7 separate regions of the Homo sapiens genome follow, and regions 2, 3, 4, 5, 6 and 7 are each reported to be linked to region 1. Evidence: microRNA targets listed by miRTarBase, many of them from high-throughput screens and not tested one by one. Region 1 holds a microRNA gene; each other region holds the end of a gene's coding sequence.
Evidence for each region. Region 1 holds the annotated microRNA hsa-miR-6895-5p (CAGGGCCAGGCACAGAGUAAG, at 2,424-2,444, opposite strand). A microRNA usually pairs through its seed, bases 2 to 8, with sites in the 3' UTR of a target mRNA and lowers its output. Matches are read on the target gene's strand: a 7mer-m8 pairs with bases 2 to 8, a 7mer-A1 pairs with bases 2 to 7 and ends in A, and an 8mer does both.

Region 1 (4,073 bases):
GAGGGGCCTGAAGTGGTCCCTTCCGCCGGTTCCAAGCCATTCTGGTTCTCCTGGGTGCTGGGGCTGCCAGTGGTGGGGATGGGTGCAGGGGGGCCCTCACCCCCAGTCTCCTCCTCCAGCTCTTCCTCCTCCTGGACCTCCTCAGCCTCTGGCCCTGAGCTCCGTACCCTCTTTGGCTCTAGCTCCTCTCGGGCTGGGTCATCGCCCTCCCCACCCCGATCCACCTTCCGCCGCCGCCGCCTCTCCAGGGCCCGGCCCCGAGCCCGACTCCCGTGACGCTCTGCCTTCTCCAGCTGTGATTACAGACAGGCAGAAAGACAGGTTGTGGGCCAGTGGTCAGGCCTGGGCTCCCTACTCGGCCTGACCTCCTGGCCCGGCCCATGACCCCTCTCCTCACCTCCAGAAGTGTGCGGATCCTCTCCAGGTCTGGGGGCTGTCCAGCCTGCAGCAGCTGCCATATGCTGTGGTTCTCATCCAGGGTCACCTCGAGCAGGTCCCCCTCCATCATGAGCTCCTCCAAGGGGGCCCGGGTTGCCTCAGGCAGTTCCAACACAGGGCCAGTCAACTGTGGCAACAGCGAGGACAGCAGCTCCAGATCTAGGAGGTTGCAGGAACAAGCGGCATTAGAGGCTGCCCTTGGTCTTATCCCCACCACTACAACAGAGCTGAGGACTACATGGGTCACTATGGTGATGTGCAGTCAACAGCCTACCCACACCACACCTAGACCTACCTCTCTTACCTGAGCCCTCCTCCGGGGCTACCTTCTCAGGACTGGTCACACTGTCTCCATTCTCCAGTAAGCCCTGGACCTGCGGAGGAGAGCAAGAATAGGTAGGGGCAACTGAAGTGAAGAACCAGGCCCTATTCCTCCTCCGCCAACCCCAAACTTGAGACCCTCCGCCTTCTGGAGGAGGAGGGAAGACACAGGCTGCCAGCAGGGAGCAGAGTCTAGGAATCTGGACAGATGCAGAATGGAGTAGGAAGGCTGGTCCAAAGAAAACTGAAAATTGGAGAACAAGGGGCAGGGCCGAGCCTAAACTGGGGTAGGGGCTAGGAGACAAGAATCTGAGGACAAGAGCTGGGCTGAGTAGCTCACCTTAGGCATATCCTTGCCACTGCCCTCTCTGAGGGGGTCAGAAGCAGGGGCTGCAGGGTAGTTAGGAGGCTCCTCAGGTCTAGGTTCAGCCTGTAGCCGTTGGCGGAGCTCAGCCAGCCGTCCCAAAAGAGCAGTCACATCTTCAGAGGCCAGAGCCTGCCTGGCGCGGCCTTGCCAGCTGATGGCCCTCTCTGTGAGGCACTGCAGGGCCTCGCCCTCGGGCAGCCGCACAGGCAGTCTCTGCAGGGCTACCAGCAGTGCCAGGATGGTCTCCAGGCGCGGGCGCCTTGAGCGCATACACAGTGGACACAGGAATTTGGTGTCCCATTCCCACCAGGCCAGCAGTGGGGATGAGGTGGGATTGGGCCTCGGAGAGCTGAGGAGGCGAGGCACTGACACACACCGCCCATGGAACCAGTCCTGACACAGGTCACACTGCAGAGCTCCCGCCCCAGCCAGCACCTGCCCACACACACAGATAGAGGTTGTAGAGGAGGCCGTGCTCGATGATGCCAGTGGACTGGGCTTGGCCGAATTGGTGCGACGCAGCTGCAGGATACCCTCCTTCTCCTTCTGTTCCCCCTCCTTGAAGGCCACGATCTGCCATACCCAGGACAGGAGCAAAGTGGGTCAGCAGCCTACCCCTTCCCTTCTCTGGGCCCCCCCTTAACACCCCCACTCCCAAACCAGGAGAACTGAGGCTCAGGGGACAAGCGGTCTGCTCATGGCCACCCAGCTCAGACACTCTATCATCACCAAGCCCTTCTCCCCATCTGTGTCGAAGCTCCTTACCACAGAGCCTGGGTCCCTGAGGTCCTGCGCAGACAGCCCCAGCAGCTCTGTGTCAGATTTGTACAACCCCAGCTCCTTCTCCATCCACCGGCTGCGCTTGGTGCTGTCTGAGCCGGCATCTGCACATGGGCAGAGAACCTGGGGCAGGCAGACAAGAGAGGGAATGACTGGGCTTCCCTTACATCCCCCGCCTCCTTCCCTCCCTGGTGCCCCTACAAAACCCATGTTATCTCATGAGCCATCTCACAGAAGCCAGGGCAGGCGTTAAGAGACGCTGTAGGTCAAGGTCCCAGGCCTCACCTCCAGCAGCGTGTAGCAAGAATTTTTCTTGAGGAAGGTCTTGGAGGCCTTCTCCCTCCAGGAGTGCGCTGTCAGTACCTGTAGCTCTAGCTGTCTCAGCTCCTCCAGCCCCACAGGTAGGTCCCGGCCCACAGCTACTAGGCCCTCCAAGTCATCCAGGCAGGGGTAGTGGTCACCATTCTAAGGCCAAGGGCGAGAGACAGCTCAGTTCAACTTGCCAATGCTATTGATGCTTACTCTGTGCCTGGCCCTGAGCTGGAAAGATGAACTGGGCTCAGTCTTGAGGGATTAAAAAAATAGGTGTCATCCTAAGGAACAACCACTTGGCTCTCTCCCACAACACCGGCATCTACTGACTGGCTCAGCCCCAAATATCTAGTCAGCCTTCTGTTGTGGTTTGCCTCTTCTCCTCTCCTCCATGCCCCTGCCCTGCTCAGTCCCATACCACCTGCTTCCCTGGCCCACCAATCTCATCCTAACCAGTGCCCTCTCTTCCTTCAGGCCAGCCTCACACTCTTCCTCTCACCCTGCTCATCAGGCACATCTTGCCTCCTGACTACATGCCATGCCCCCTTCCTCTCTCCAGCCAACCCAACCCATCCCAGCAACCCAGCACATCCCAGTGTATATGCCATCTCTTCCCAGCTGGACTGAAGGCCTGGGGTGGGAGTGGCAGGGTCCTCACTTGGATCTCATCAACATCAGCAATCCAGGCCCGGGCCTTAGCAAGAGCCTCCTTGAGAGCCTGGATGTTGGGCAGGTGAACAGGGATGTTTTCCGCTTCACGGATTATGGCCTCAAGTGTGGCTGGTGGATGCTTCTGCCTAAAGGTAAGGAAAAAAAGAACGCTCAGTCTGATGTGGTCTGCCTGACCAGAAGCCCAGCCTGACCACCAGATATATCTGCATGGGCCCCTTGGGTGTCTGTTATTCCTGCTGTCACTTGGGCCTACTTGCTTGTATTCCACCTAAGGGTAGCTGCCAGTCCCTGCTTCCCCAAGACTGCATGCACCCAACTTCATCCCTTCTGCCACAGCTCTTGCACCTCTGTTTGTCTGCCAGTCTGCTGGCCTGCTAGCAATGCCTACATATACAACCTGTATTGTGTAATCTGTTGCTGCAGTTTGTCAACTGCCCTGTGTGGGGTCTTTCTACCAACATCTGCCCATCTGCCTGTCACTTGTGCTTCTGGGTATGCGCACATTAGCCTGTAGGGCTAGTCTTCTAGATAATCTCTATCTGTCCATTTCTGCTTCTCCATCAGCCTCTCTTTGCCTTTAAGTATACAGAGTTGTTTTTTAAAAAAACGACAAGATAGACAACAAAAGAGGGGAGAGTCAATACAGTAACACAGGAGCGTGATACCTAAGGCCACCCATGGGCATCCTCTTCTGGGTCTCCACTCAACTTTGATGTTTGGAATAGGGCAGGGAAGGGAAGCAGCAGCTGGACCTACCTGGCCTCCAGGCAGAGGTGGGCTTTCTCCTCCCAGCGTTCAGCAATGGTCAGCAGTTCCTGCAGCTCGGCCTGGGCTTTATCCACAGCAGGGCTAGGGGCTACACTGGCACCCGCGACCAACAGTCCTCGCATGACAGCCAAGGTGCCCCTTCGGGCTGAGGGGGCCAGTGTGCGTTTCACCTCATCCAGCCATCGCGCCTGTTCCACCTGCCGCTGGAGCTGCTGGGCCTCAGGCACCTCCACCCCCAGCTGCCGCCCCCTCTCCAACAGGGACTGCAGTAGCCCTGGACTGGAGGGCAGTGAGGCCAGGGCCTCACGAGCCTCAGCCTGGTAGGCCTCCACCTGTTCCAGAACACCCTACCAGGACACAGGATGAAGAACAAACTCCTCAGCTGGGCCCACTGAGGGGTTCCACCACCAGATGG
Region 2 (4,073 bases), not on the chromosome of region 1:
AGGGGCTGGACCTCAGAAGACTAAAGGTCTAGTCCTGGTCCTTCCACTAATGGGCTATGGTGACCCTGAGCACATTATTCCACTTCTAGGTGATTCAGTTTCCTCATGACTCATAACAGGAAATCATTGGTCTCAACCTTCCTCCAAGGACTAGTGTGTGGAGCTAGAACATGCACCAAGGAAGACTGGGGAACATCAGAGAGAGATAGGACTCAGTACCGTTGACTCAGGTAAAGAGGGAGACAGCAAGAACAGAGTAGAAAGGCAGCATAAAACTGGTGGAACCAAACACAGACTAAGTAAAAAAAAAAAAAAGGTAAGCTTCCCAACGACACCATGTCCCAGGAAAGAAGATCCAGTAAGAAGCAGAGGCCTTTAGCAAGGATGCCAAGACAATTCCGTGGAGAAAGGATATTTTTCTCAATAATCAGCAGTGGGACAAGTGGAGATCCACAAGCAAAAGAATGAAGCTGGACCCCTACATCACATCATATATAAAAATATACTCGAAATGGATCAAAGACCATTGTGAGAACTAAAAGTATAGTTCTTAGAAGAAAACACAGGCATTAATCTTCTTGACCTTGGATTAGGCAATGGTTTTCTAGATATGGCACCAAAAGCACAAGTGACAATAGAAAAAAAATACGTATCTTGGAAATCATCAAAGTTAAAAAGTTTTGTGTCTCAAAGGACACCAACAAGAAACTGAAAACAATCCACAGAAGGGGAGAACATTTTTACCAGTCATATACCTGATAAAAGACTGGCGTCTAGAATATACAAATAGCTCACCCAACTCAATAATAAAAAGAAGGCTCATCCCTGGTAGTCTAGTGGTTAGGAAAACAGAAAACTTAAAAAAAAAAAGACAACTCAATTAAAAATAGGCAAAGGACCTGGATAGACCTTTCTCCAAAGAAATACGCATGGCCCGTAAGCACAGGAAAAGACACTCAGCATCAGTTGCCATCAGGGGAATGCAAATCAAAACCACAAGATAGCATTTCATACTCATTAGGATGCTAAAAGCAAAAAGACAGATAATAGCAAGTGTTGATGAGGATGTAGACAAATTGAAACCTGGATACATTGCTGGTGGGAATGTAAAATGGTACAGCTGCTATAGAAAACAGTCTGGCAGTTTCTCAAAAAGTTAAAACACGGAGTTACTGTAAGACCTAGCAATTCCACTCCTATGTATATTGCTAAAAGAAATGAAAACATATGTCCACACAAAATCTTGTAGAAATATGTTCATAGCAGCATCATTCAGAGTAGCCAAAAAGTAAAAACACACAAATGTCCATCAACTGATGAATCAATAAACAAATGTGGTCTATCTATACAATGAAGTATTATTCAGCAATACAAAAGAATGAAGTACTGATACATCCTCAACTTGGACGGCCCTAGAAAACATTCAGTGGAAGAAGCCAGTCACAAAAGAGATATCACATGATTCCAGATATATGAAATGTCCAGAGTAGGTTAATCTTACATAGAAAGTAGATTCATGGCTGCCTTGGACTGCAGGAGTTAGGAAAGCAGGAGTGACAGACCAAGGGTACGGGGTTTTACTGGGGGTGATGAAAATGTACCAACGTTGACTGTAATTCTGTGAATTGATGGTGGTTCTGTGAATACAATTGGACACTAGCAATGGGTAAACTGAATGGCATGTGAATGACATCTCAATAAAGCTGTTAGTTAACCCACTCCCCGCTTCTCCTCTAAAGAAGGAAGAGGAATCAGGAGCCTGTCCTCACTCTGTTCTGTAGGAATGCCACGGCTATTACCCAACATAATGACTAACAGAGCCCCTTTTATTCCGAGATGTCCTGGTTTATATGATAAATTTATATCGCTACCCTATCACTATGTGCTACCATGCAGGTGACTTTGCCCCTCTGAGCCTTGGTTTCCTCATCTATAAAACAAGTTCTCCCCATTGTAGACCCTGTTTTATTCTGGTAGTCCTTCAGTCTAGCACTTCATTCCACAGAAGCTCCATTTAGAAGCTATGACATCCCATTCAGGTGGTCAGAGGGTTCCCCATGAACCTAAATTAACCAAGAGCTGAAGCCCTGGGCCAGTAGAGATCACTGGATCCCAGGAACCAGAGGCAAGACAAAGACGAATTTCTGAGTCTACCACAGTTACTGACACTCAAATTTCCCGATAGTTAGGCCATTAAGAAAGATGATGCACCCATTCTGATGCAGGCAAAATATCCTAAACATAGCCTCTACAAACAAAGATAAACATGTAAGTGAGGGGCACTCAGAGAAAACACATCGCTCCTGTGGCAAGTTTAGCAGCGGTTCAACAAGGTCTTCTCTAACTTTCTATAAGTCCATCCAAGAGGGCCTGGTATTGTGGTGGTCAAGGTCATCTGATGACACCTAGGAATGGAATACTCATTCCTAATCCTCCTTACCCGTGATTGCCAGGAAATAAAATAGTCTTTTTCTATTACCATCCCCCTAACCTCCCCACAAAGGGCCTCAGAACTAATGTCTCTGAGAAAGGCCGTGCACATACATTGTGGCATCTACCATGCCAATGCGCCAGTGCAGAGACAGGAGCACATCTTTGGGTTCCGCAGCAGCAGATCCTTAGAAACAACGTAGAGAAGAAAGAGGTAGAAGGCACAGAATAGCCCCACTCCCATCAATTCATCCAAGAACAGGAAAGGCGGATGCTCACCAGGGTCACTGAGAAGGGAAGCAAACCTGAAACAGGAGAATGAGGGCAAACTGCTCCCATCAAGTCGGCAGTGCTGGCCATGCAGCCAACTCCCAGAGGAGGAGGTAAAGGTACCAGCTTCCAGGGTGAAGCAGAGCTTTCTCTGGAGGCAGGAGAGTGGTCAGAAGGGACCAATACAGGCAGCACCAAGATACCCAATCAGCTTCCAACTAAGGGATGAGGGATTTCAGAGCAGACGTCTCCACTGTTTGCCCTTTTAGAACGTCAGGGTTGGACCAATAGAAAAGAACAAGGAACCATTCAAAATCTGGAGGCCAAGAGGAAGGGAGAAAGGAGCCACTGGCTTTCTGTACACCGTACTTGGTGTCCACAGGCTTCTGCTGGTTGGTGCTCTGTAGCTTTCACAGACTGGGCAGGGTCCCTCCTGGCCTCAGCTTGCCTGGTGAGGCCACAGCTTACAGTGGGGCAATGTCTACATCCACGGGGATCCACAGGGCTGGGAGCTGGAGACAGGTATGAGGTCCACTGCTGCTCAGAGTCCACATTTCAGGATGATGTGGTAGCCATCATTGCTCTCAGCTGCAAGAGAGAAACACTGGGTGTATTTCACAGGAAAAAAGGTGCAGTGCCACAGTATTGGGGAGTCCCAAAAGGCACGCTGTTAGGGTATCAGCAAAGACCACCAAAATAGGGCTGCATACAGCAAAGCGTGCTGGCAGAAGCAGGGATCTCACATGCCCTGACATCTGCCTCGTTTAGTGTCTTTTTAACAATAGGTCTTTCTACCATAGCCCCAGGCCCAAGGATGAAAACCTACGTTCCAAGGAGGATTTGGACAACTGTGGTTCTCAGGGATATTATGGCCCCCAAGGCCCCAAAGACACTTGGTGGTGGCTGGGCGTGGTGGCTCACGCCTGTAATCCCAGCACTTTGGGAGGCCAAGGCAGGCGGATCTCGAGGTCAGGAGATCAAGACCATCCTGGCTAACACAGTGAAACCCCGTCTCTACTAAAAAAATACAAAAAAATTAGCCGGGCCTGGTGGCGGGCGCCTGTAGTCCCAGCTACTCGGGAGGCTGAGGCAGGAGAATGGTGTGAACCCGGGAGGCGGAGCTTGCAGTGAGCTGAGATCGCGCCATTGCCCTCCAGCCTGGGTGACAGAGCAAGACTCCATCAAAAAAAAAAAAAAAAAGACACTCGGTGGCTAGATCCACGGGACAAGGTGGGAAGTGGCCTCATCATGGTCCAGGGTCTATGAGTCGGTCAGAGGGCTTTTGTTCTGACATATCCTATACATGCACCCCAACCCTTAGGAAGGCCACAGCAGATCTTTCTCTACCTTTTATGAATAAATACATGTTCTTG
Region 3 (4,073 bases), not on the chromosome of region 1:
TCAGCCTCAGCCAGACCTAGAGCGCAGGGGCCCCCAGCCAGCGGCCCCTCCTTAGCCCCTCCCTATAGGCTCTGTCAGGGCACCCTGTACTGTCCCATTCTGCCCCCAGGGCTGTTGGCTCAGCCAAGTGAGGACCACGCGGAAGGCGCCCCTGGCTGCGTGCGCCATGCAGGGGCCCTGCTGATGCCTCCCCCTTGTCTCCCTCCAGTACACCTCCAGCATGAGAGCCAAATACCTCGCCACGAGCCAGCCTCGCCCTGACTCCAGCGGCAGCCACTAGACCGCGCCCGGCAGCCACCCACCCCACGTGCCAACTTCCCCTCCCCGTGCCAGCACTGCCGCTTCCACCTGGGCCACCCACCGGACCCTCGCACGCCGTGCCAGGCCTGCCCCAGACGCGTCTGCAGGCCGCTTGCCCTCCTGTCCCCTCCCCGCAGGGGCACAGTGGAGACGCAGGGGCTCTGGGCCCGTACCGCCAACTCGGGTCACACCTGAACGCTGCTGCCAGCCGATGCCCCAGCCCTGCACGCCACCCACTATCCCGGCACGCTCCCTCTGCAGATGGTCGCCGCACCTACAAGCCCTGGCCGCACCCAACCTGTGTTGTTGCCGCCCGGCCCTTCCCTCCACAGCTCTCCTTCCTCCCGCCCGGCACTTCTGTGGACCCCTTCTTAGTTCACAGGCACGGCTGGGGCCGCTCTGTGCTGGCGCCTGCTGGCCACTGAGGGACAGGGACACGTGCCACCTGCTCATCTCTGCCCTGAGGTCACCCCGTGGTCCCTCCACGTGCCCATCTCTCTGCAGTGCCCTCCTCGCCTGTGCAGCCCGCCCACCCACAGGCTCACCCCTCCTGCCGGCTGCCAGAGGCCCCCTCCAGCAGGGCCTCTCTCCGTTGCCCCAGCTTCACTCTCTCCCTCAGCACCTGCCCTGCTGGAGGCCCCAGCCCTCCGTGGACAGCAGGGGCCACGTGGAGCCCGGGCCGCTCACCCGCCACCCAGTGCTGGCCGCCTTCTTGGTGCCAAACCCCCTTCCCCCACCCAGAGACTGGGCAGCTGTGTCTGGTTCGTTCTTTGCACTAACCACATTTGTCATCTCTAGGGCAGGCTGGGGCTGCGGGCTGAGGGGGACCGCTGGCACCCCCCTTCCCTCCCTTCTTGGTTCCATTTCCATCCATGACAGGTACAGCATCCCAGGAGCCCGGCCTGAGGGGCTGGACCCGAGCCGGCTGTGAACATCCCTCAGCCCCTGCTGTCCCCCCTTGGGACTAACCACTAACCTCACCCCCAAACTCCACGGGTGCCCCTAGCTGGCCCAGAGCCGGCAGTGTGAGCCCAAGTCCGGGCTGGAGCCGAGGCCGGAGCAGCTGTCTGGGAGTCAAGGCTGCAGTAGCGTTTCTTCATGGGGTGCTCCAGGGGGTGCCACAGACCGACAGGCAGCCCAAGGGCCTGGACACCCCTCCCCAGGCAGGTGCTGCCCCAGGAGGACTGTCCTCGGGAATGAACCTCCCGCGGGCTTTGGACTGAGGTCCCTGTGGCCTCGGTCTCCTCCCCATGAAGTGGGAGCGAGGCTCCCCAATGGTGCTTTTGGCTTTAGTGTACGATGTTTGCTGTGCTTCCCGCCGTGGAGGGCAGAGCCACCCCACATCAGGATCGGACGTGCTACCCCTCCCGGTCCCGGCCCTGGCCCAGCCAGCCCAGCCCTCGAGGCTCGATGCCTGTGCCAAGGCCAGGGGCAGCCAGAGGGCAGCTGGATGGCCACGTGCAGGGGTCAAGGCTGGGCCCTGCAGTGGGGCGGGCCGCCAGCCCCAGCAGTTTACAGACGCATGGCTCTTCCTCCCAGAGCAGCCGGCAGCTACCTGGACCGGAAATGTCCTCATCCCCTCCCTGGGGCCAGGCTCTGCCCTGGCCTTCCTCTGTGAACCCCTCCTTTCTTTGTGCTGGTGTCTGGGACCAAAAAGGGGGAATATGGGAGGGCAGAGTGGGGAGGGGAGTCCATGGGCCTGGGGCCCCAAGCCGGGGCGTCTGAGCTCCCCAGGCATGACCAAACCTCAGTGGAGGGGCCTCTGCTTCAGGCCCCGCCTGGCTGACATTCTGAGCCCCCCTCGGAGGCCCCGCCACAGCCAACCTGCCCAGTCTTTCCTCTGGGCTTGACCCGCCAGGGGAGTTCTCCAGGCCTAGGGCCAGGAGAGAGGCCCTGGCACCCTGGCGTGGGTGCCCGCCAAACGCCCTGCGACCGCTCAGAAGCACAAATGCTGTCCATGGCCGTGAGGCTGCCTGCCAGGTGAATGGACATAGCGTGAGAGGCGGTGAGGCCAGGGCTTCCAGCCTCGTGCTGTCTCGGGACTCCTGACCGTGGTGTGCGTGTGTGCCCGTCTGTGACTTTCTACTCACCAAGGTTGAAGAAAGGAAACGGGGAAAATCAAAAGGGGTTCAAACCCCACCTCAGTAGGTGGAGGGGAGCGCCTGCCATTGGTTGTATTTTTGTTCTGAGTTTTCGGTGCCGTGTTCCTAACTACTCCATCCCATGACCTCGCCACACCTACTGGGGCATCTGGCTGGTGCCTGCTGCCATGGCCAGCCCCCACTCTCACCCTGCACAGGGGGTCTTGCAGCCCCCAGGCCCACAGCCTCGTTGGGAGGACAGGGTGGCCCTGGGGACAAGAGGGAGGAGCCCAGGGGCTTACCTCACTGAGAGTGCTCCCCAGCAGGCATCCACTACCCCAGGGCCCCCCACATGTCATGGCAAGGTTGGTAGTGAATGGGCCTGGTTGGGAGCAGCCCCTGGCCCATTGCCCACCCACCCATCTCACTATGCAATTCGAGTTCCAAGCAACATTTGCTCCTGCCCTGGGGCCAGCTCTGCCCCAGCCCTGAGAGGGGTGGTGAGGCAGCCCCCTGGACCCCAGAACCCCAGACAAGGGGGCAGGCGGGGGACCAGGGCCTCTCCTGTGGGATCTTTGTTTTGTGTTTAACCATAATGGTTGTGTACTGAACCACTTCATATTTGTTATATATAATATATATATATATAATCTCCTTAAGACTCAGCCTCCTGGTTTACCCCCCCGGCCTGGGCATCTGACCTCCCCCACCCCAGTGTGATTTAACATCCAGGAACTGAGGCCTGAACCATTTTGCATTTCCCCCTCCTCCAGCCTCTGTAGGGCCATGGCTGTATGTACTGTCGCTGTGTTTTTTTGTTTTTTTAGAACTGGGTTTGGGGGCTGATTTTTATTTCTTTGGGGGCTTTTTTTCTTGGCAAATACTAAAAATCTCGTCAATGTAATTTCTGTGGTTTCTATTCAGCTTGGGTTTCATGTTTTAAAATAAATTTTAAAAAGCAAGCCTCTCTTCCTGAGCTGCTTTGGCTCCTGGCTGGGCGCTGGTAGGGAGTCCACGGCTCCAGGCAGGGGCATTGGGGGAACAGGGGGACACTGAGGGTGGGGCCGACCAGGTCAGCTCCGAGGGGTCGGCTGGGCGGGGCCTCTTGTGGTTGCGGGCGGGGCCTCTCGGGGTTGTGGGCGGGTCTTCAGGGGTGGGCGGGGCCTCGGAGTGACTGGGCGGGGCGCCGGGGACAGGCTCTCCAGGGATGGGGTGGGCGGGGCGCCGGGGAAGGCTTTCCAGGGTTGGGGTGGGCAGGGCTTCTGGAATGAGTGGACGAAGGCCTTGCAAAATGGGTGGCCGAGGCCGGGCGCGGTGGCTCACGCCTTTAATCCCAGCACTTTGGGAGGCCGAGGTGGGCGGATCACGAGGTCAGGAGATCGAGACCATCCTGGCTAACACAGTGAAACCCCATCTCTACTAAAAATACAAAAAATTAGCTGGGCGTGGTGGCGGGCGCCTGTAGTCCCAGCTACTCGGGAGGCTGAGGCAGGAGAATGGCGTGAACCCGGGAGGCGGAGCTTGCAGTGAGCTGAGATCACGCCGCTGCACTCCAGCCTGGGCGACAGAGCGAGACGCCATCTCAAAAAAAAACAAAAAAATGGGTGGGCGAGGCGCCGGGAACGAGATCTCGGGGCATGGAGTAGGAGGAGCCTCTCGGAGCGAGTGGGCGGGGCCACGCTCGCTGGGTGG
Region 4 (4,073 bases), not on the chromosome of region 1:
AAGCAGTGAGGTGCTAGATGAGCTCTACCGTGTGTCCAAGGAGTACACGCACAGCCGGCCCCAGGCCCAGCGCGTGATCAAGGACCTGATCAAAGTGGCCATCAAGGTGGCTGTGCTGCACCGCAATGGCTCCTTTGGCCCCAGTGAGCTGGCCCTGGCTACCCGCTTTCGCCAGAAGCTGCGGCAGGGTGCCATGACGGCACTTAGCTTTGGTGAGGTAGACTTCACCTTCGAGGCTGCTGTTCTGGCTGGCCTGCTGACCGAGTGCCGGGATGTGCTGCTAGAGTTGGTGGAACACCACCTCACGCCCAAGTCACATGGCCGCATCCGCCACGTGTTTGATCACTTCTCTGACCCAGGTCTGCTCACGGCCCTCTATGGGCCTGACTTCACTCAGCACCTTGGCAAGATCTGTGACGGACTCAGGAAGCTGCTAGACGAAGGGAAGCTCTGAGAGCCCTGAGCCTAGCACATTCCACCTTGACAAAATGGTTGACTGAGAAAACACAGATAATGGGCTTCCTAACCCTGCTCACCTGGCACTAACACTTTTCAATCTTCAGGCTTCATTCCTTCCCAAGAGTGCTTTTGACTCTGAGACCAGCCCACCCCCAAACAGCTAGTGGAGAAGGAGCAATGCTGAGGGGTGAGGCCTCTCTCCCACTCCAGCCCCAGGACAGGAAACAGAACTGCCTGAAAAAGGTGAAGTGAAACTTGGATCTCTATTTCTCCCATAAGGGACTTCTGAAACAGGGAAGCCCCCTCCCATGTGAACCAAGGAAAGGAGGCACAGCCCAGAGAACCCCTTTGGGGATACTAAAGACAGAAGAGGGGAAGGTGGCCCTTAGAGACAGAGCTTGGACAGATGCCAGAGGCTCTGTTCCAGAGTGCAGGAAGAAGGGGCTAGGGCAGGGGAGATTCTCATAGGGGAAATAAAACTACTAAAATATGCACAGGGCTCAATGTTTAATCTGTCCAGCTTCGTATACCTTATAATCATCACAGAAGAAAGGAGGTATATAAACATTACTTATCTCACCTCTCATCATTTCCAAACAGGAGACTGAGGCAGATTTCCATTATTACTGAGGTTCCCTTACCTACTTCTGTTTAAGAAACAAAACAACTGTACCATAGATCAGTGCTACAAATCGCAAATAAATATGCAGTGAGGAGGAAGGCATAGAGAGAGAGGGTCTGGAGGGGAGGGGGTGTAACAAAGAGACTCCCACAACTGGCTTCCTCTTCAAACCCCAAGGAAAGCCTTCTTCCATCTGTTCCCCTCACCACAGGCTGAGCAGAACAGGTCAGAAGGGTGAACTGGTAGAATGGAGAGTTCAGGTCCCTACAGTGCTGCTTTTTCTCAGAGTCAAGAATTGTGAAAAAGTTACAGGGAATTGGTTTGTCAAGACTGAGCCCATTCAACAGGAATGGGGTACCAAAAAAAAAAAAAAAAAGAATCAGCCCAAATCTGTCACTTTGAGATTGGAGAAAAGGCCAACAGTCATCCATTCTCTGTGGTGGGCTATATCACCGATTGCCTCATCCTCAATAACATGTTTGGCTAACAAGGTGGGGAAAGTGGAGAACCAGCAGTCACTGGCTCACTGTTCCCGGGTTCTCCTCACCCCAGGGCTATAGAAATTCCATTTTTCAGCTAAGAGTGGGAAGAAATAAAATATAGCAAATAAATATTACTTCAATATTAGCACCAAATAAATTATGTCACATAGTTGGAGATGAGGAAGAAGCTGAGGGGGAGTCTCTGCTTCCCTGTTCTAAGGCCAGGGAAAGGTAAAAAGGATAGGAAAGGCAACAAGGATATAAAAAGAGCCTTTTGAGTCTAAAGGACTCAACTCTAGATTCAGCCCAAGAACTGGGAAAGGTCCAGTTCCCATTCCCTAATCTTGCCAATAAAACTGCCCCAGGCCAAGGAATTTTTGGCAGACAAGGAGGCTGGGGAGGATGGCTGGAGTGGAGGGAGGCAGGCTCATAAGCCATGTTCTTGAGCCTCACCTCAGGCTCCTCTCCCCCTGAAGTTTCTCTTTCAACATCTTGCTTCTCTCAGTCAGTTCTGGGGACATCAGAGTTTGAAGATTTCATCCTCCTGGTCCCGTAGTGTCCGGGTCCGAGAGGTACGGGTCAGCGGCACAGGACCTAGGACTGCTCGTTGCTGCATCCAAGGGGAGCTCAGGTGGAGACCTGCATCCTCCCCAGGTACCCTGCAATTGAGGAAAGGGGGGAAAGAGTGACAGATCAAGGGAAGAACCTGACAATGGGCCAAGTGAGAGGTACATGGAAAGCTATCTTCTAATACATAAGCTGGTTGCTTCAAGACAGTCTCAGTACCCTCTAGATAAATCCTAACCCTAATGCTCCTTCATGGATGATCAGAGCAGTAAAAACAGTTAACTGTCAGCTGGCCGCTGTGGCTCACGCCTGTAATTCCAGCACTTTGGGAGGCCGAGGCTGGCGGATCACGAGGTCAGGAGATTGAGATCATCCTGGCTAACATGGTGAAACCCCGCCTCTACTAAAAATACAAAATATTAGCCGGGCGTGGTGGCGGGCGCCTGTAGTCCCAGCTACTCGGGAGGCTGAGGCAGGAGAATGGCGTGAACCTGGGAGGCGGAGCTTGCAGTGAGCCAAGATCGCGCCACTGCACTCCAGCCTGGGCAACAGAGCAAGACCCCGTCTCAAAAAAAAAAAAAAATAGTTAACTGTCTGACTCCAATAAGAACACAGAACCCAGTTTTCCACTGCCTCTACCCAGGCCAGCAGCCATCACCTCTGCTCATTATCTTGGGGCCACATGGGGGAAAGGTATCACCTTGCCTCTGTTGGCACTGTCCTTACTTACTTGTGTTTGTGGTTAGGTAAGACAGGAATGATGGAGGAGTCTAGGGAGGAACTTATAAGGAACCATTCAAGACTCACCCATTTTCCCCTTTTTTCAGCTTCTGAGCAGCAGCCTTCTTGGACAGGCTGATCTGTGAATCAAGCTTCTTAAGGAAATCAGAGGCAGAGAGGTCATGGATGGGCGTGGGGGTTTCCTGGCCAGGTGTGGGGAGGACTTCACCATTGGCACGTCCTGCTCCTGTCTCTTGTTTCTTCCTCTCAGTTGAGTGTGGCCAAACTTCACTGTTACTTGGGTGTACTTTTTCCTCTCCATCTTTCTCTTCCTCAGAGTCCAAACCATTGAACAGGTCTCTGGGCTCTGTCAGGATGGGGATGTAGAGGGTTTTCTTCAGGAAGATGGAGTCATTAGTATAAAGGCGGTTTGCACGTTTAATCTGTTCCATCTTAAAAAAAAAAGTCACCAAAATTAAGGACAGTAATAATGATCAATCTTACATCTTGAGCTTTTTAAAGTGACTGTACAGAGTCTTCTTTGATTCCATAACAACCAAGCTAAAGTACAAAGGGCTGACATTATTTCTATTCTATAGATGAGTGGTTTTCACACTTTTTGGTCTTAGGGCCCCCTTACATTTTAAAAAATTATTGTGCAAGCCAGGCGCAATGTCTGATGCCTATAATTCCAGCTACTCAGGAGGCTGAGGAGGGAGGATAGCTTGAGCCCGGGAATTAGAGTCCAGCCTGAGTAATATAGTGAGACGCCATTTCTAAAAATTAAAAAATTAAAAATAAATGAATAAATAAATTAATGAATAAATAAAAATGAAGGAACTGAGGCTCAGAGAGGTTAAGCTACTTTCCTAAAATTATCTATCAAGTTAATGACAGAGCTAGAATGACAATCCTGGGTCTTTTCACTGCTTCTGAGAATGCTTTTCACACTATACTATTAACAATGTCATTAATAAATATTTATTTTGACCTATTTATTCATCACTGGACATAGTGACTGGCATCACCATCTATCTGCCTGGCCTCCCAAGGTAGAAACATCAATGTCATCCTTAACTAATACTTGCCTTTCATCACCATACCAAGTGGTCAACAAAACTGCTTCAAAAATCTCTCTCACATCTGGTCTCACCTTCCTACTGCCAAAGATTTAAAATAGACCCTCAGTATTTCTCATCTGGGGTTATTGCAACAGTTTAACT
Region 5 (4,073 bases), not on the chromosome of region 1:
AGAGGACCATATCAATAAGTCCATAACAATAGATGCAGGCCAGGTGCAGTGACTCAAGCCTGTAATCCCAGCACTTTGGGAGGCAGGAGGATCACTTAAGCCCAGGAGTTTGAGACCAGCCTGGGCAACACAGGGAAACTCCATCTCTACAAAATAAAAAATGTTAAAAAACCTAGCTGGGCATGGTGGTGTACGCCTGTGGTCCCAACTACTCTGGAGGCTGAGGTGGGAGGATCACTTGGGCCCCAGAGGTTGAGGCTGCAGTGAACCATGATCGTGCCACTGCACTCCAGTCTGGACAACAGAGGAAGACCCTGTCTCAAGAAATAAAAATAATGGCCAGGCACAGTGGCTCGCTCATGCCTGTAATCCCAGCACTTTGGGAGGCTGAGGTGGGTGGATCACTTGAGGTCAGGGGTTCGAGACCAGCCTGGCCAACATGGTGAAAGCTCATCTCTATTAAAAATACAAAAATTATCCAGGCATGGTGGCATGTACCTGTAGTCCCAGCTACGTGGGAGGCTGAGGCTGGAGAATTGCTTGAACCTGGGAGGTGGAAGTTACACTGAGCCAAGATCGTGCCACTGCACTCCAGCCTGGGTGACAGAGCGAGGCTCCATCTCAAAAATAATAATGATAATGATAATAATAAAATGATAGATGCAGAGGTGACTGGGATCTATAAACGGGAGCTGTGTTGGGGAGCGGGGACACTCAGGCACTTGGGACAGGGACATTTGGTGGCATCTGGGTCTGGAGCAATGGCAAGCTGCTGTAGTAGGAAGGCTTCAAAAGCTCCAAACGGGGCCTCCAGATGCTGTGAGTCCTCTCCTAGGACGCCCCATGTGGGAGGCCCCATATGGGAAACACTGGGTGGGACCAAAAGACTCCAAAGTCCCTTCCAAGCTGGAGACTCAGCTCTACATCCTGAGCCCCGCCTCCCACAATGGACGAGGTGCTCCCTTGGAGCTGATTTCAGGTCGCCTGTCCTGGGGGCATTCCCACCTGAGCTCCTCTGTGGTTTGCAGAACTCACCCATACCATCACTGGCCCAAAGGGATGGGGTGCTATGGTCTGAATGTTTGTGTCCCCCCTAAATCCTAGGTTGACTTTTTTTTTTTTTTTTTTTTTTTTTTTTTGAGATGGAGTCTCACTCTGTAACCCAGGCTGGAGTGCAATGGCGCAATCTCGGCTTGCTGCAACCTCCGCCTCCTAGGTTCAAGCAATTCTCCTGCCTCAGGCTCCTCAGTAGCTAGGATTACAGGCATGCACCACCACGCCCAGCTAATTTTGTATTTTTAGTAGAGACAGGGTTTCACCATATTGGCCAGGCTGGTCTTGAACCCCTGACCTCCACTGATCCACCTGCCTCAGCCTCCCAAAATGCTGGGATTACAGGCGTGAGCCACCTCACCCAGCTCTAGGTGGAAATTCTAACCCCAAGGTGATAGTTTTAGGAAGCAGGGCCTTGGAAGGCGATGAGGTCATGAGGGTGGGGCCACATGAATGGGATTAGTGCCTTTATGAAAGGGGCCCAAGATGGCCCAGAGCAGTGGCTCATGCCTGTAATCCCAAGCACCTTGGGAGGCCAAGCAGGTGGGAGGATCACTTGAGGCCAGGAGTTTGAGGCCAGCCTGGGCAACAAGGTGAAATTCCCCATGTCTACAAAAAAAAAAAAGGAGGGGCAAGAGAGCTTGCTAGTCCCTTTCACCCTGTGAGGACACAGTGAAAAGAGCCATCTGTGAAGCAGGCCCTCACCAGACACCGCTTCTGCCAGCACCTTGATCTATGAGAAATGAATCTGCGGTTTCTGAGCCACCCAATGTGTGGTATTTTGTTACAGCAGCTCAAATGGACTGAGACGAGCAGGGCCCTCAGGCCATGGTGGTTTATTGATGCACGTCGCAAGCACAGCACAGGCAGGCGGACCCCAGCCCCGGGGGGACATGAGGGCCAGGGGAGGGCAGTGGGCCACCCCCACAGCAATGCTGTCAGCACAGGGGGAAGGAAAGGGCCTGGGCCATGTTCTCTCCTTCTCCACACCTCTCCCCAAGCCTCCAGGCCTCCTGACTCATCCCAGAGAGACAGCTGGCCACACAACTGCCCCTGGCTACAGATAGGTGACCGTTGTCCACCTGTCCCTCACCGAGGTATGGCCTTGCCGGCCCGCTGCTGCTTCCGTCCTTCATCACGAAAATCCAGCTGCTCATCCATCATCTCTGTCACCTCTGAGAAAGTCACTGTGAGGCTGCACTCTCCTCTGCCTGATGTCACCTCCATCATCCCCCAAACAGCCGGCTGCTGCTGTCAGCCCCTCCCACAGGCTCTCTGTTTGCTTTGTTGATTGTAGGGAGTCCACCCTCGTGACCTGTGTGACAGTAGGAATGAGGCAAAAACACAAGGAGGCCCGGGAAGGACTTCACCAAGAACTCCCCGGGGAGGGGCTCCCGGCCAGCAGGGTGGCAGGAGAGCAGACAGAGCCAGTGGGGAGGGGAGAGGCGGAGCAGCAGAGGGTCCACAGTCCAGGTCACGCATGGGCACAGTACAGTCATGGCACCATGGCAGAGCGAGTGAGCAAAGTGCACAGCTGGGCGGGGTGCCGGGGCCCGCGGGACAGCTTACAGGTCTCACGTTCCATGCCAGGCCCCAGCAGAGCATGAGGCGGCCCACTCCCAGCTGAGGAAGGGGCACCTCTGGGTCTCAGGGGTCTCCTCCCCCTCCTCAACCCCAGTGGCTGCTGTCTCAGACCCCTGCACTCTAAGCAAGGAGAAGGTATGCTGGGGTATGGAAGGAAGGAACATCCGACAGCCTGACGCCCCCAGTGCCAAGAGAAGAAAGAGAGTTCCTTTCTAGAGAGCAGGGGGAGTGTCCCGGTGGGCAGGTGGAGAAGGAGGGACAGCTCTCCCATGCAGGAAGAGGGTTCTTTGGGGCAAGGAGCAGCCAGGGAGTCACGGTGGTGCAGGAGACTATTTATAGAAGGAAGGGATCCAGGCCTGGAGTGGGAAGCCCCAGAGACCCAGCTCAGCAGGGAGGGGGCATTCTGTGGTTGGCCCTGAGTGGGGTGAGTGGGACTAAGAAAGATCGCCCCACAGCTCTCTGCATCTCTTCTGGAGGCAGCCAAGCTACCCATGGGCTTTGGCCCAGAGGGGCTTCCCTGGGAGAGCCCAGGAGGTGGGCAGGTCTTTGGGAGATAGAGACCTGGACGAGGCAAAGAACAGTAGGACAAGGAAACCAGAGGAAAGGGGAAGTTCTCCAGAAGTCCAGCCCAGCTGCCAACTACAGAGGCTGAGAAGCCTTTCCATGTCCACCAGGCTGGGTGTGGGCCACACTTACCAAGAGGACCACCGTCTGTTGCCTCCAATGCCAAGGGGCGAGGGGAGGGCAGCTGGGCAGAGTGGAGGGAGCAGGGGGGCAGGAGAGAGAAAGCCAGCTCCCTGAACCTGGGCTACCCACCTCCACCTTCCGCTCATCTCTCCCTCGCCCCCCAGCTCCCCAGGAGTCCCTAGCGGCCCACGCTGATGTTGCAGGTCTTGCAGCTGGGGTCCTTCTTGGCATCGGCAGTAGACAGACTCATGAGCTGGTGCCCACTGATCTCCCCCAGGGTGCCCAGGGACAGGTCGACGGGCTCAGTGTAGATGATCTCCAGGATGAGGTCCTGGGCGTGGCGGAAGACCAGCTCCCCATCCTCCACGCTGCAGGTCAGGAACTTGTTGCAAGCAATGTCCAGGAGGGGCAGGCGGTCGCGGCAGAAGCGGTCCCCCAGGGAGCCTTTGGGCGCCAGCACCAGGATGGCGTAGTGGTAGGCCGTGTACATGCAGTAGAAGTCCGCAAAGTAGAGGTTGGTGCTGGGATTGAAGAGGCGCTGAGCTGGGATCTGGAAGCGCCAGCGGCCGTAGGGGGAGTCCTGCGGGGGCTGGCCCGTGTTGAACTCCGTGTTGCAGCTGAAGAAGACCCCGTGGAGCATACCGCTGGTGGGGGAGCCGTGGCTGCCACTGTTGTCCTTCAGGTAAGGCTGCAGCATGTTCCCGCAGTGGGTCCTGCCCACCCCAGGGAGACACACCAAAGGGAAGAGA
Region 6 (4,000 bases), not on the chromosome of region 1:
TGCATTCCAGCCTGGGTGACAGAGTGAGACTCTGTCTCAAAAAATGAAAGCTAAAAATAATAATAATAGGCCAGGCACGGTGGCTCATGCCTGTAATCCCAGCACTTTGAGAGGCCAAGGTGGGTGGATCACTTGAGCTCAGGAATTTGAGACCAGCCTGGCCAACATGGTGAAATCCGTCTCTACTAAAAATACAAAACTTAGCTGGGTGTGGTGGTGGGCGCCTATAATCCCAGCTTCTCAGGAGGCTGAGGCAGAAGAATCACTTGAACCCAGGAGGCGGAGGTTTGCTGTAGCCGAGATCAGGCCACTACATCCAGCCTGGGTGACAGAGCAACACTCTGTCTCAAAAATAAATTAATTAATAAGAATAATAATAAGGTGCCCTTGTCGGCTGGGCACAGTGGCTCACACCTATAATCCCAGCACTTTGGAAGGCCAAGGCAGGAGGACTGCTTGAGCCTAGGAGTTCGAGACCACCCTGGGCAACATAGTAAGACTCCATCTTTACAAAAAATAAAAACATATAAACAAACAAAAAATTAAAAAGTGGGCCGGGTGCAGTGGCTCATGCCTGTAATCCCAGCACTTTGAGAGGTCAAGGCAGGTGGATCACCTGAGGTCAGTAGTTGGAGACCAGCCTGGCCAACATGGTGAAAACCCGTCTCTACTAAAAATACAAAAAATCAGCCAGGCATGGTGGCACACGCCTGTAATCCAAGCTACTTGGGAGGCTGAGGCAGGAGAATTGCTTGAACCCAGGAGGCAGAGGTTACAGTGAGCAGAGATCACGCCACTGCACTCCAGCCAGGGTGACAGTGAGACTCTGTCTCAGAAAAAAAAAAATTGAAAAGTGTCCTTGTTTCCTGCTTTCCACAGTTCCCTGCCCATTGAAGACCAGATCTCCCTTCTCAAGGGAGCAGCTGTGGAAATCTGTCACATCGTACTCAATACCACTTTCTGTCTCCAAACACAAAACTTCCTCTGCGGGCCTCTTCGCTACACAATTGAAGATGGAGCCCGTGGTGAGATGGTGCTAGAGCAATAGGGGGCATGTGTCCTCATGGTACAGGATGTGGTCAGGTGACCTAGAGGCTCCTAATCCTAGTATCTCCCACAGTGGGGTTCCAGGTAGAGTTTTTGGAGTTGCTCTTTCACTTCCATGGAACACTACGAAAACTGCAGCTCCAAGAGCCTGAGTATGTGCTCTTGGCTGCCATGGCCCTCTTCTCTCCTGGTGAGCACCTCCCAAAGCCCAGAGCCTTTTGCTGCACCACCTCTGCCCAAATACTCAGCTCCTTGAGTCCATCCACCCAGGCCTTCTAGCCTAGCTATCAAACCTGCAGACTAGGTCTATCCCAGCCTCAGTCCCCGGGGCACCACGCAGGCCCACCCCTGCCACCCAACTTGTCCTTCCCAGCTCCCTATCTTACAGACCGACCTGGAGTTACCCAGAGAGATGAGATTGATCAGCTGCAAGAGGAGATGGCACTGACTCTGCAAAGCTACATCAAGGGCCAGCAGCGAAGGCCCCGGGATCGGTACGGTGGGACACTGAGGGCTTGGAGGCCACACCAGGGCAGGAAGGGGTTGGTGAAACATTGAGCTTGGGAGGAATGTTTTTTTACTGTCCTTTCCTTAGGGAATTCAGGTATCGTGGGGTCTAGTCCTTCCCCCTGGCCATCCCTGTCTCACATCGTTTCAGCATCCAAATTGCTGTATTTGGATACTGCTGTTTCATCTCACTTTTTCCAGATTTTTTTTTTATTCAGTACAGATGCAAAGTAGTAGCTCAGAGGCTCTGGGTAATAGCATTCCTGAGATTGATGACATCCATTACCTCACTAGTCCAACTTCTCCAGACTAACGCAGACTTTTCTCTTCCCTTGGCCTTTCCTCTCCTCGCCATTGGGCCAATTCCTTCGATTTCTCATTTCCCTTGAAGTTAGGGCCATTCACAGTTTCATGGTCAAAGCCAGTTCCAGGTTCAATAGTCTGTGATTTATCCAGGCTCTGAGGTATGCACCGCTTCTGTTTTGCTCGTTCCTCCAAGAGCTAGTTTGGCCAGAAAGGGGATGCTTTATACCATAGAACACATCCACCTTCTAGAACCTGCTCTAGAAGGCCAGGCCCTCAGATTCCACATGGTTGGAGTTCTGGCCAAGTCTGGAGCTTTCTTCACACTCGGCTCTCAGAGCTCTGGGTTCAGAAAAAACTGAGCATGGTGAGAGAAGACAGTGTCAGACCGAGGCCCCCTGGAGGACCTTTGGAACCTCTGATAGTCTGTCATACCAGAGCATGATTTTCTCTAATGTTCAGACCTGGCTTCACTGAGGAATAGTTCAGGGGATCAGGGCCTAGAGACAAGACTCCCAACTGCCTTATTTCCCTCCTGTTTTCCTGGCAACCCCACTACTTCCTCCAAAGGTTTCTGTATGCGAAGTTGCTAGGCCTGCTGGCTGAGCTCCGGAGCATTAATGAGGCCTACGGGTACCAAATCCAGCACATCCAGGGCCTGTCTGCCATGATGCCGCTGCTCCAGGAGATCTGCAGCTGAGGCCATGCTCACTTCCTTCCCCAGCTCACCTGGAACACCCTGGATACACTGGAGTGGGAAAATGCTGGGACCAAAGATTGGGCCGGGTTCAAAGGGAGCCCAGTGGTTGCAATGAAAGACTAAAGCAATAACTGCCTCTTCATGCGGTCATGGGGATAGTGGGGGTGACCATAGGAACAAAGTTGTTCTCTGGAAGCACAGAAGATGGGAAGGAGGAAACCTCAGGGCTAAGAGGTAAAGAAGCTCCTTCTGGGAATGGGTGGGCCCCACTTCCTGAGACCAAACATCTAGCCCTTCAGCCCTACTTTCCCAGCCTTGGGAGGCTCTGGGATGGAAAACAGGATGGTCAGCTAATCCCATGCAGGATTAACCAAAGGGAAAGGAAGAAGGAAGCCTGAGGGCAAGGGGTGCCGGGGGAATTCAGCCATACCCCTTAATCCTTCTCCCTTAGTCCACAGCCACAAGAGCATGGGGAAGGTGATACTGGGGCTGGTAGCAGAGGGGGGATCCTCAAACCTCTGCCTCATCAACTGCCCCTGTGGCAGCTCCAGTTCTGAGGAGGGCATGGTCCTGTCCACCACTCTGCTCCTGGGTCCTAGAGATCACCCAGCAAGGTGGGCTCTGAAGAGGGGCCTAGTCTTTGGCCCTAGGGCACCTGACTCAGAGGTTCCAGCTGCTGTGGGGGCTGGCTCTGGACAACCTCAGCCCACAGTGATGCTGAAGCCACAATGGAATCTGTTGCGCCAGTGATTGAGGAAGGCTCCAAGGGCTAGGGTGACAGGCAGAGGGGGCATCTTCTTCTCCAGCACAGCACCTACACACCAGTTACTATCCACCAAGCCTGTTGGGGGAGAGAATACCCACTAGATTATTTAACAGGGATTGGAGGAAATAGTCACCAGAAGTAAGGTCGAGCTTCCCTCCCTCCTCTGCATCCCCCATTCCTCAGGATAGCCAAATGTCTCCCAATAACCCTCACCTCTAAATACCATGTTGGCCTGGGGCAGAGTCAGGTGGTAACCAAAGGAGAATGTTGTGTCTTGTAGCCTTGTGTTTGCCTCAAACTCCACTCCAACCTGAACCTGAGAACCATGGGCAAGGATGAGAGAGAGATCAGTATCAGTGAAGACCAGAAGGGTCCTGATGGGGAATCAGCAGAATGGAGGCATGCATGTAAATATATACACAGCGTGGTAGGAAGAAAAATAGGTCAGCAGGGCGATAGAGGTCCAGATGAACAGAAGTTCATGACTGACTTGCTGACAAGGAGGGAATGAGATCAGAGGTCTCACCTGTTCATTTGCCCTGTGGTAGTAACTTGCATGGGCCCCGCCTGATCCCACATTCAATGTAGCTACCCAGTGTACAGCTGTAAAATCCAAAGTACAGAGGGGAAGGAGTGTTAACTGTAGTATGACACAGGCCAGGAACCCCAGAAAAGTC
Region 7 (4,061 bases), not on the chromosome of region 1:
CCCTCTTGCCTCGGCCTCCCAAATTGCTGGGATTATAGGCATGCACCATCATGCTCGGCCGTGGCATCTGTACTTGGCTGCTTCCTGAAAGCAACCTCACTAGCTCTATAGCAGCCAGCTCTTTCCACCTCTCAGCCTTACGCACATGGGCCTCCCCGCCAAGTATACTACCCACCTCCTGTCTCACAATCCCAGCACCTCAAGATCCATCCTTGTCTCCACCCCTGCCTATACACATGCAGGTGCCCCTGGGCCTCACCTCAGGTGTCTGGCCACCTGGTCAATGTTGGACACGTTCAGTTGGTCCTTGATGATGCTGAGATCTCTGTGACCGCTGCTGGCAATGAAGTCACTATCACTCTCCGCATGTTGCTCACCCCAGGCCTTCAGGACCCAAATATCACTTCTAGGCAACTGTTTCTTTTCTCACAAAGGCAATATAATATAGTGCAAAGAGTAAGAGTTTGGGAGCCTAGGTTTGCAAATGAGCTCTGCCACCCTTCATTGTGTGTGACTTCAGGCAAATCACTTATCGCTTCTGAGCTTTAGTTTCTTTTCCTTTTTTTTTTTTTTTTTTGAGACAAGATTGTGCTCTGTTGCCCAGGCTGGAGTGCAGTAGCACCATCTTGGCTCACTGCAGCCTTGACATCCCGGGCTCAAGTGCTCTTCCCACATCAGCCTCCTGAGTAGCTGGGACTACAGGTGCGTGCCACCACGCCTGTTCAATTTTTTTGCACAGATGGGGTCTCACTATGTTGCCCAGGCTTCTTTTTTTTTTTTCTTAGAGACAGGGTCTTTGTCACCCAGGTTGGAGTGCACAGGTGCAATCATAGCTCACTGCAGCCCCGAATTCCTGAGCTCAAGCAATTATCCCACCTCAGCCTCCCAAGTAGCTGGGAATACAGGCATGCGCCACCTCACCTGACTATTTTTTTTTTCACTTTTTGTAAAGATGGGGTCTCCCTGTATTGCCCAGGCTGATCTCAAACTCCTGGCCTCAAGCCATCCTCCCGCCTCAGCCTCCCAAAGTGCTGGGATTACAGGCATGAGCCACTATGCCCGGCCTTTAATTTCCTCTTGTGCAAAATGGAGATTTTGCCCACCTCCTCAGGCTGTGTGAGGATTAGAATAAGAAGTTGCTGCCATCCACTTATGAATATTTTATCTCATTCAGTCCCAGCTGTAAATACCATTTGTGACCATCCTCTTCAGCTCTCCCTGCCTCCCTAGCCCAGCCCTCACTCCTGTTCTCTAGGCCAGAGGAACAACCGCCTGCTGGACATGGCTTCCTTTCTTCCCTCTTCCTACAAAGCTCTTCTCTTTCATCTCCCTGAAAACTGCTCCTCATACTACAACACGCAGATCAAACCACTTTCTCCAGGAAGCTTTGCCTGTCCCCAGGCTAGGCAGGTGTTTCCTCTGGGTTTCAGTAGCCCTCATGGGCTGATAATCTCTATCACAAGTGGCGGTGGAAGTGCCCAGCCCGTGACTGGAATCTCCTGCATGGAGCCAGGTGCAACCCACCAGTGGGCTAGGGCCCTCTGCCAAGCAGGGACAGATCCCTCTCTCCTACCATCACCTTACCTGGGCCCACCACCTCTCATCTGGAATATCTCCTGTTCTGGCAAATCACACCTGGGCTCCTCCAAGGCAAAGTGCAGGACCCTGGGGCTATACTGGACCCAAGCTTGGGCCTGGTCCCTGCAGAAGGTGCACAGGAAGGAAGCTGAGAGGCTCCTTTCTGGAAACCACAGAAAAGGCAACCCTGGCTCCTTGTTAGGGGCAGCGCTAGCCCACCTGGTATCTAGGGAAAGGGCCCAGGCCTGAGGCTCCCACCTGCCCTCACAGATGGCTTTGTGGCGGAGACCCTGGAGCAACTGCCGGAGCTCCTGGCGCAAGAGGTCCTTTAGGAGAGGCGGTGGTGCCAGAAGAGAAGAGGGGTCAGAGATGGGGCGGGAGCTGGGGGCTTGAGAGGATCGAGCCTCTTGGAGCAGTGCCCGTAACATCGCCACCTGCAAGGAGAGCTGGGATACCTTGCGACTGGGGAGGGGAGTGTCCGGAATGGTGGGGGCTGGGGGAGTGAGGGAGAGGGCGGAGTCAAAGGGGAGACCAGGATAGGATCTCGGGAGTTACCCGGCAGGGCCAGGGACCCGCAGAGGTGGGAAATCACCCGAGTCGTGGGGCAGGCCAGGGGCGTGGCCCACCTTCCCTCTCCCCACCTCCGCCCGCAGCTCCAGGCTCAGGTCCACCGCCGCCTCCCCCAGAATCCTCTTCACTTCGCGTCGCTCCCGGAGCGGAACGTGCTCCTCCACCAGCTCCCACAGCGAGGGGGAGTGCCGGAGCATGACCCACCGACGCCGCCGTCCCCGGCTCGGACCTACGGGCCGCAGGTCAGAGTGCGGGAGGTACCGCGGGCCCGCCGGCAACGCTCACCAAACCCCGCCCCTCTATGGGCCCCGCCCTCTCCCAAGCCCCACCCGTGCTCTGCCGCTGGTCCCCTCGGCTGGGATTGCCCGTTCCGGAACTGCCAGTCCTTGGCGCTCTCTTCTGCCCGGCTTTTGGCCGACTCGGATGCCGGGGGCCCAGAAACCAGGCAGTGGGAACCAGGGCCCTAGCCCCACCTCTTCCGCGTGGCCATCACCCGGGAAACCACGCCGCGACTCTAGGGCCCCGCCCCCTCCCGTGTTTGGTCCGGCGGGCGGCGCGTGCCGGCTGGGAGTTCAGACTCACCTCGGCGCTCCACCGAGCCCTGACCCAAGCACTTTGGGCTCGGCCCTGGGCACCTTTAGGCCTCAGGGAACGTGTTAAGACCTGAGAAATCTGGGTCCACGGGTTTATTACTTCGTCGCCTCCACTGTCCCGGAAGCAGTGCAAGGACAAACTTCCCCTTAAGGCCAGTGAAAGCCTAGGGAGTGGCAGCGCTTGGAGAACCAGGATGGCCCGGGTCAGGTTTACTTGTTGGGCCAGGTTCCCCAAGTGCCCTTCCACCACAACACACTCAGGGTAACCACGTTCAGGGACCCGACCCCCACCCCCAAACAGACAAGGGAGCTGCTCCATTCACGTTTTTTACTAAAGCACCCACACAAGTTTCTGTGCAATGTACAAACACAAGCCGGCCCTGGGGCTCCTGCCTCCTCTCTCAGACAGGGAGGCGGGAACCAGACTTACTGATCCAAGCCCCACCTGCCTCCCATGCAAAGGCCAACCCCAAGATCCCAGGCAGCGACACAGCATCCCCTCTGGTCCCCTCCTGGGGCTGCTCCTCAGCAGGGGGCGCACCAAAGCTTGCCCCCTACAATGTTGAATGAAAAAGGTTTCCCCTCCCCTGGGAGCAAGGGGGTTCCCAAGAGCTGAGAATTCCCCCTGGAAGAGACACTGCCCCCTAGACATACCTCCCACCCTTCCAGGCCCTAGGGGACTCAAGGGGGGGAAACTGAGGCACAGAGAGGTGGAGTGACCTAGCCCAGGCCACTCTGCGAGGCAGTGCAGGGGCTGGCCCGACCCTGACAGTGACTGGGGCTGGGCTAGGGGGAGGGGGTCGGGAAGGAGGGTTGACTCCAAAGAGGGCCACACTTGAAGAGCCTGCCCAGGCAGGAGGCCCCCCAAAGTGGGTTCTGAAACTTCCAGGTGTAGCTAGGGGGCCTAGTGAAGACCCTTGGAAAACAGAGCCCAGTCTCAGTCCTGGAGGTCCTCCACAGAGCAGCTGCCAGCCAGGCTGTGGTCAGTCCTCTGGCAGGCAATCTTCGGCACCGAGAGCCTCTGTCCATTAGTGTCAGCCCCGAGGGGGCCACGACGGAGGCCGCCCAATGTCCACTGTGATATTGGTGAAGAGTGGTTGCCGAGACACCTCCAAGACCTGGTACCGCACTGACCCAATGCCGTCCCGCTTCATGGTCAGCTTCGTGTTTTGAATCTTGGTAAACCTAGATAGGATGGAAATGGTCCACATCAGGGCTAACAACTGTAAACTAAAAATAAAATCCTACACCCCCCAACCAACTAAATGGACCCCCTTTTGGCCAAGGGGACCCCAGGGAACCTTAAAAACAGGGTTTCCA

Region 2: miRTarBase lists TFCP2L1 as a target of hsa-miR-6895-5p. The part of its 3' UTR that is shown has no 7-base or 8-base seed match.
Region 3: miRTarBase lists TTYH3 as a target of hsa-miR-6895-5p. Seed matches in the 3' UTR shown: 7mer-m8 at 2,646-2,652.
Region 4: the mRNA of TNFAIP8L2 is a reported target of hsa-miR-6895-5p. Seed matches in the 3' UTR shown: 7mer-m8 at 839-845.
Region 5: the mRNA of PHYHIP is a reported target of hsa-miR-6895-5p. Seed matches in the 3' UTR shown: 7mer-m8 at 1,950-1,956.
Region 6: the mRNA of TOMM40L is a reported target of hsa-miR-6895-5p. Seed matches in the 3' UTR shown: 8mer at 1,947-1,954.
Region 7: the mRNA of B4GALT2 is a reported target of hsa-miR-6895-5p. Seed matches in the 3' UTR shown: 7mer-m8 at 3,567-3,573.

The regions. Positions count from the first base shown.
Region 1 is chrX:53,193,040-53,197,112 of GRCh38, forward strand. MIR6895 (microRNA 6895) reads right to left here and starts at 2,449; the gene lies at 2,372-2,449. It overlaps KDM5C (lysine demethylase 5C), which reads right to left. Exons shown (of 26, transcript NM_004187.5): 19 at 3,647-4,005; 20 at 2,877-3,015; 21 at 2,192-2,371; 22 at 1,892-2,029; 23 at 1,100-1,699; 24 at 734-812; 25 at 398-597; 26 at 1-293.
Region 2 is chr2:121,221,100-121,225,172 of GRCh38, forward strand. It overlaps TFCP2L1 (transcription factor CP2 like 1), which reads right to left. Exons shown (of 15, transcript NM_014553.3): 15 at 1-3,288. The coding sequence ends at 3,242. Among named protein-coding and RNA genes, the nearest start is that of TFCP2L1, 62 kb to the right of the region's middle.
Region 3 is chr7:2,661,460-2,665,532 of GRCh38, forward strand. It overlaps TTYH3 (tweety family member 3), which reads left to right. Exons shown (of 14, transcript NM_025250.3): 14 at 209-3,343. The coding sequence ends at 280. Among named protein-coding and RNA genes, the nearest start is that of AMZ1, 25 kb to the right of the region's middle. RefSeq lists an enhancer at 3,416-3,710.
Region 4 is chr1:151,158,799-151,162,871 of GRCh38, forward strand. It overlaps TNFAIP8L2 (TNF alpha induced protein 8 like 2), which reads left to right. Exons shown (of 2, transcript NM_024575.5): 2 at 1-951. The coding sequence ends at 454. All of the region lies in intron 1 of TNFAIP8L2-SCNM1 (TNFAIP8L2-SCNM1 readthrough), which reads left to right. LYSMD1 (LysM domain containing 1) reads right to left here. Exons shown (of 3, transcript NM_212551.5): 2 at 2,938-3,302; 3 at 950-2,222. The coding sequence ends at 2,084. Among named protein-coding and RNA genes, the nearest start is that of TNFAIP8L2-SCNM1, 4.2 kb to the left of the region's middle.
Region 5 is chr8:22,217,851-22,221,923 of GRCh38, forward strand. PHYHIP (phytanoyl-CoA 2-hydroxylase interacting protein) reads right to left here. Exons shown (of 5, transcript NM_014759.5): 5 at 1,853-4,037. The coding sequence ends at 3,503. Among named protein-coding and RNA genes, the nearest start is that of PHYHIP, 12 kb to the right of the region's middle. RefSeq lists an enhancer at 2,164-2,864.
Region 6 is chr1:161,228,354-161,232,353 of GRCh38, reverse strand. It overlaps TOMM40L (translocase of outer mitochondrial membrane 40 like), which reads right to left. Exons shown (of 10, transcript NM_032174.6): 8 at 3,850-3,926; 9 at 3,537-3,639; 10 at 1,608-3,398. The coding sequence ends at 3,259. NR1I3 (nuclear receptor subfamily 1 group I member 3) reads left to right here. Exons shown (of 9, transcript NM_005122.5): 6 at 880-1,025; 7 at 1,121-1,237; 8 at 1,436-1,541; 9 at 2,428-2,685. The coding sequence ends at 2,557. Among named protein-coding and RNA genes, the nearest start is that of MIR5187, 3.2 kb to the right of the region's middle.
Region 7 is chr1:43,990,163-43,994,223 of GRCh38, reverse strand. B4GALT2 (beta-1,4-galactosyltransferase 2) reads right to left here. Exons shown (of 7, transcript NM_003780.5): 7 at 3,056-3,926. The coding sequence ends at 3,776. CCDC24 (coiled-coil domain containing 24) reads right to left here and starts at 2,625. Exons shown (of 9, transcript NM_152499.4): 1 at 2,478-2,625; 2 at 2,220-2,377; 3 at 1,837-2,012; 4 at 1,585-1,701; 5 at 260-337. The coding sequence starts at 2,345. RefSeq lists silencers at 2,172-2,221, 2,362-2,471.